2 separate regions of the Homo sapiens genome follow, and region 2 is linked to region 1. The links come from fine-mapping of genetic effects on gene expression. Tissue or cell type: whole blood. Region 1 holds a variant in brackets; the other region holds the start of a gene. All regions are shown on one strand. Distances are between the middles of the regions.

The links. PIP is the estimated chance that this variant, and not a neighbour inherited with it, causes the effect.
Region 2: it holds the start of LINC00847, and the variant in region 1 is fine-mapped to the expression of LINC00847 in whole blood (INTERVAL, PIP above 0.99).

What each region holds. Positions count from the first base shown.
Region 1 is chr5:180,855,605-180,858,444 of GRCh38, reverse strand. All of the region lies in intron 1 of ZFP62 (ZFP62 zinc finger protein), which reads left to right. Among named protein-coding and RNA genes, the nearest start is that of ZFP62, 4.3 kb to the left of the region's middle. The variant G/T (reference allele first, on the strand shown) is at 1,271.
Region 2 is chr5:180,829,639-180,832,298 of GRCh38, reverse strand. LINC00847 (long intergenic non-protein coding RNA 847) reads right to left here and starts at 1,342. Exons shown (of 3, transcript NR_045679.1): 1 at 1,070-1,342. HEIH (hepatocellular carcinoma up-regulated EZH2-associated long non-coding RNA) reads left to right here and starts at 681. Exons shown (of 1, transcript NR_045680.1): 1 at 681-2,345. It also overlaps a transcript of ZFP62 not described here. RefSeq lists silencers at 1-136, 577-706, 1,067-1,116.

The DNA of each region.
Region 1 (2,840 bases):
TTTTAGTAGAGATGGATTCACCTCATTGGCCAGGCTGGTTTTGAACTCCTAGCCTCAAGTGATCTGTCTGCCTCAGCCTCCCAATGTGCTGAGATTACAGGCATGAACCACTGCACCTTGCCTGATCTTTTTAAAATATTTTTCTTTTTTTTCTTTTCTTTTTTTCTTTTTTTTTTTTTTTTTTTTTGAGACAGAGTTTCACTCTTCTTGCCCAGGCTGAAGTGCAATGGCACAATCTCAGCTTACTGCAACCTCCACCTTCTGGATTCAGGCAATTCTCCTGCTTCAGCCTCCCAAGTAGCTGGGATTACAGGTGCCCACCACCATGCCCAGCTAATTTTTTTTTTTTTTTTTAGTAGAGATGGGGTTTCACCATGTTGGCCAGGCTGGTCTCAAACTCCTGACCTCAGGTGACCCACCTGCCTCGGCCTCCGAAAGAGCTGGGCTTATAGGCGTGAGCCACTGTACCCGGCCTAAAGTTTTTTTCTTATGAACTTCCATATACCCATCACTTGGATTCAGCAATTATCAGGATTCTGCTGTTTAACTTTTCCCTTTTTAGTTTTTCCTGATTGAAATATTTTAAATTCCAGATTCCATGCCATTTCACTGCAGACTTCAGTCTGAATTTAAAAAAAAAAAAAAAAGGTCTGGGTGCGGTGGTTCACGCCTGTAATCCCAGCACTTTGGGAGGCTGAGACGGGTGGATCCCCTGAGGTCAGGCGTTGGAGACAGGCCTGCCAACATGGCAAAACCCCATCTCTACTAAAAATATAAAAATTAGCTGAGCATGGTGGCACATACCTGTAATCCCAGCTACTCGGGAGGCTGAGGCAGGAGAATCGCTTGAACCTGGGTGGTGGAGGCTGCAGTGTGCTGAGACGTGCCATTGCACTCCAGCCTGGGCAACAGAGCAAGACTCAGTCTCAAAAAAACAACAAAAAAAAAACAAAAGTTCTAACATAGCCACAATGCCGTTATTATACCAGCCTAAATTAGCTCTGATTCCTTGATATTATCTAACAGAGGTGGGCACACTGCTGGGCTTGTGGACTGTTTTTGTATGGCCTACAAACTAAGAATGATTTTTACACTTTTAAAGGAATGCTTAAACAAAAATAGTACTCAGCAGTTCTGTGTGGCCCACAAAGCCTAAAATATATGCTACCTGGTTCTTACAGAAAATGTTTGCCAACTCCAGTTTAATAAAATAAGTAATTTTTCCAAAACGCATATCCAAGTTTGCTACTCCTTTGCCCGAAGCTCCCGA[G/T]GATCAAGTCTGGACTCCTTATGGTTGCAGCCCTTGTCTTTGCCTACCTGTCTGATTTTCCCTTTGCCTGCCCCAGATGTCTTCGGGGGGTGAACACCAGTTCCTCTGTACCTGCTCTTCCCTTGGCACTCTTCTCTTCCTGAAGCTATTCCTGTAGTCCATCCCCCCTTTCCCACCCTCCATGTCCTGTATTTGCTTTTTTTTTTTTTTTTTTTTTTTTTTGAGACATAGTCTTGCTCTGTCACCCAGGCTGGAGTGCAGTGGCACGATCTCAGCTCACTGCAGGCTCGCCTCCCAGGTTCATGCCATTCTCCTGCCTCAGCCTCCCTAGTAGCTGGAGCTACAGGCGCCCACCACCATGCCCGGCCATTTTTTTGTATTTTTAGTAGAGATGGGGTTTCACGGTGTTAGCCAGGATGGTCTCGATCTCCTGATCTCATGATCTGCCCGCCTCAGCCTCCCAAAGTGCTGGGATTACAGGCGTGAACCACCATGCCCGGCCGCCTCTGTCATTTTTATCATATGGTTATTTTCCTACCAGACTCTCCTACTAGTCTGCAGGCACCTTGATGGCAGGGCCTTGTCATATCCATGTCTTTGGATAGGAATAGCCCGGGGCCTGGAAAACAAACAGGATGCAGACAATAGTCTTAAGTTCCTTGGGCAACACTTAGCCTCAGAAATAACTGATACCCTAGAATGCATCTCCAGTATTGTTTATAAGGATAACTTAATTATCCTTATGTGTTACATTCTTTGTATTGTCTTTATGTTTTAGCAGCATTTACTCTAGTGCTGTCTTGGTGCTTTTCTGCCTGTGTTTTTGATGGATCTTAGTATTGATTAACATAGATTTCATTTCAAGCCATCTATTTTCATTGAAGATGCATGTTTATGTTAATCCATTTTGATTTCACTCAAGAAGAGGATTGGATGAACTACATCAGGTGACGGGACATCATGCGCCCCAACCCAAACAGAGGGGTTTAAGCAGAGCCAGAACAGGGAGGCCCCTGGCCTTCACCTAGGTTAGAGAGGTAAGTGGCAAAGTGTCTGTGATTTTAGGCAGACCAGGCCAGTCAGCAGCCAGTCTAACATGGAATCCCAGAGGACAGGAAGAAAACGAATAATCCACTTGTCAAAGAAACAAAGGAGGACAGATCAGGCTGAGAATCAGTGAGTGGAGTGGCAGTGAGGGTTGACAGTTGCACAGGCGGCTGGTGCAGAAGGCTTTAGGTGCCACAGTAAGTAGCCTGGGAGAACTTGGCACTGCCCAGTGACTAGGTGTGCATTTTACAAAAATTCTTCACAGTGGTTGGAGAAAGAATTGGGCAGGGATAAGAGTGAAGGTCTAGAAACGATGGCAGTCATGCAGAAGAGAATTTAGAAGGCTCAAACTAAGGCCTTAGCAGTAAGAAGGAGGTGGGGGATGGGGTGGGAGCTTCAGAACTACTTAGGCAATAGAATCAGCGGTCCTAGGGGCTGTTTTGGATGTGGCCAAGGGAAGTAGCCCATTTCTGATTTAGGCAAAAGTGTGGGTGGCAAGGTGGATATGAGGCTCTGTAATTGA
Region 2 (2,660 bases), 26 kb after region 1:
CCCCTGTAGTCCCGGCTACCTGGGAGGCTGAGGTGGAAGGTTCACTTGAGTCCAGGAAGGTTGAGGCTGCAGTGAGCCATGATTACGCCACTGCACTCCAGCCTGGGTGACAGAACAGACTGTCTCAAAGAAAAAAAGAAATTAGAAGTGAATCTCACTGGGCTAAAATCAAGGAGCCAGCAAGAGTTGTGTTTTTTGTTTTTTGTTTTGAGATGGAGTCTCGCTCTTGTCACCCAGGCTGGAGTGCAATGGTGCGATCTCAGCTCACTGCAACGTCTGCCTCCCAGGTTCAAGCGATTCTGGGGAGGGGAGGAGGAGGGAAGCAAGGAGAGAGGAACGCAGGGAGCAGAGCCTGACCTGGTCACAGGGGTCTGGGAAAGACAGAGGCTTTGTTAGAGCCGGCAGCTGAGGGCCGAGGCCGAGCAGGGGTTAGGCCAGCACAGGACGAAAAGGAAGAAAGTTCCAGGTGGAGTCTGGTGGAGAAAGACCGACCTGGAAGGCACCAGCATGTGCACGTGGCAACTGAGGTCGAGGACGTGCCTGAGAGAGAGGAGGAAGGTGCCCTGCGGACCGGGTAGGGTGCGGAGGTCGGGAATGGAGAACGGTCGTTGGGCAGGTCCGGGTACCCGTAGCCAGAACCACCCGGGTGTGCGCAGCTCGGCCAGGCCCCGCCTCCCGGCGTCCCCGCCCCCTGCTGGGCCTCTCTCCGCAGCCGCGAGACCCGCGCTTGGCGCATAGGCCGGTTCTAATTTACAAGAACACCGCGGCCTGAGGCCGGAGAGTCCCTTCAACCCGGGAGGCGGCGGCTGCAGGGAGCCGAGACGGCGCCATTGCCCTCCAGCCTGGGCAAAAAGAGCGAAACTCCGTCTCAAAAAAAAAAAAACATGGCCGAAACCAGGAAGCTGCGCGATGGCGCCACGGCCCCTCTTCTCCCGGCCTGTGTCCGGAAGGTTTCCCTCCGAGGCGCCCCGGCTCCCGCAAGCGGAGGAGAGGGCGGGACGTGCCGGGGCCGGAGCTCAGAGGCCCTGGGGCCGCTCTGCTCTCCCGCCATCGCAAGGGCGGCGCTGACCTGAGGCCTCCCCGCAAAGGTCCCCGAGGCGGCGGCGGCGGCGGGCTGTGAGAACCGCAGAAGAACGCTGGGCGCGCAGCGACCCGTCCACCCCCGCGAGGAGAGACTTCCACAGAGGCAGCGTTTCCACAGCCCAAAGCCACGTTTCTAGGGTGATGCAGCCCCAGTAAGTTCCTGGCGGGGAAGCTCACGGCTGTCAAAAGAACTCTTCGCTCCAGCCGGCGCACGAAGGGGAGGAGGGCAGGAGGCTGCCGCCCGCACAGGTCATCTGATCACGTCGCCCGCCCTAGTCTGCTTTTGTGAATCTCCACTTTGTTCAACCCCCACCCGCCGTCTCTCCCTCCCTGCGCCTTCCCTCTAACCTTAAAGACCCAGCTACCTCTACGCAAATGGTAGCTACCTCTGCGCAGGTGGAAGTTGAGTTCGGTTCACGCGGGACCCTCTTCCCTGTGGCAAGCTGCTGAAGGAGACCTGCTGTTACTGCTTTAGCTGCTGTTCTGCTTAATCTCAGACAGCTGGAAGGTAGTATTCCGCCCTCGCCCAGCCACCCGAGTAAATGAGAATGATGACTGACTGAGACCCTGATGGTGGTGGCTTAGGCTTAATCTCAGACAGCTGGAAGGTAGTATTCCGCCCTCACCCAGCCACCCGAGTAAATGAGAATGATGACTGACTGAGACCCTGATGGTGGTGGCTTAGGCAAGATGAACGTCTGAAATGGAGGCCCAGGGCTGCCACGATGGCTCTGTAGTCATCAGGGAGGGAGCTCCTTTTATCTTGTTACCTACTCCCCTCTTGTGCCCCTTTCTTCCCTTGATCTAAGAAGGTTGCTCCGGATCTCGCCATCTGGCCTGCGTTCAATCAGCAGAAGCTTCCTGGAGGAGCAGGAGGAGGCACTGTGCTCGCATCACATACCAGTGGCCAGAAGTTGGCTTCAGGGAAGCTCAGGAAATAGGATGCGAGAAGCCATGAGACCTCCCCAAACTCTGCAGTAACAGAGTCAACAAGACAATGGCTTAAAGATGGAGAGACCAGTTGATCGGTCACACAAGCTGTTCCACGATAATTCTTGTGTCAGAAGGGGAGGCTGACTACCAGGACCACTGGCCCCACTTCCAGCCCCTCCATTCTGAGTACACTTCAGAGGGCTCTGGCAGGGTGAGGGGGTCTTGGTGGTGCCACAGAGAGTAAAGGTCTAGCACACCCATTGTGGAGATATTTCATGGGGACAACCCAGTGACTTCACTTGAAGTAAAGTGGGATTTTCCAACCTTGAGATTCTTATTTTCTTTGGTATGCGTGTGGAAGAAGTATGAAGGTGGGGGTTGGGAGGGAGAGCAAATGAGCTGTGTGTATGAGGAGCTGGGGCCTGGCTCTTGACAATATCACCCACCCCCACCCCAGGCTTTCCTTGGGGCAGAAAGACTATGGCCGGGGCTTTCAGTGTCGGCTCCGAGGTATAGAGGTATAACCAGTGCTTTTGGCTAAGTCACGTCACTGATGAGCTTCTCTTTCCACCTTGGCAAACCAATTCTTCTGTAAAATGGTCTTCAAAGTTTCTTTTTTAAAGCAGAGAAACTTATTTTTCAGA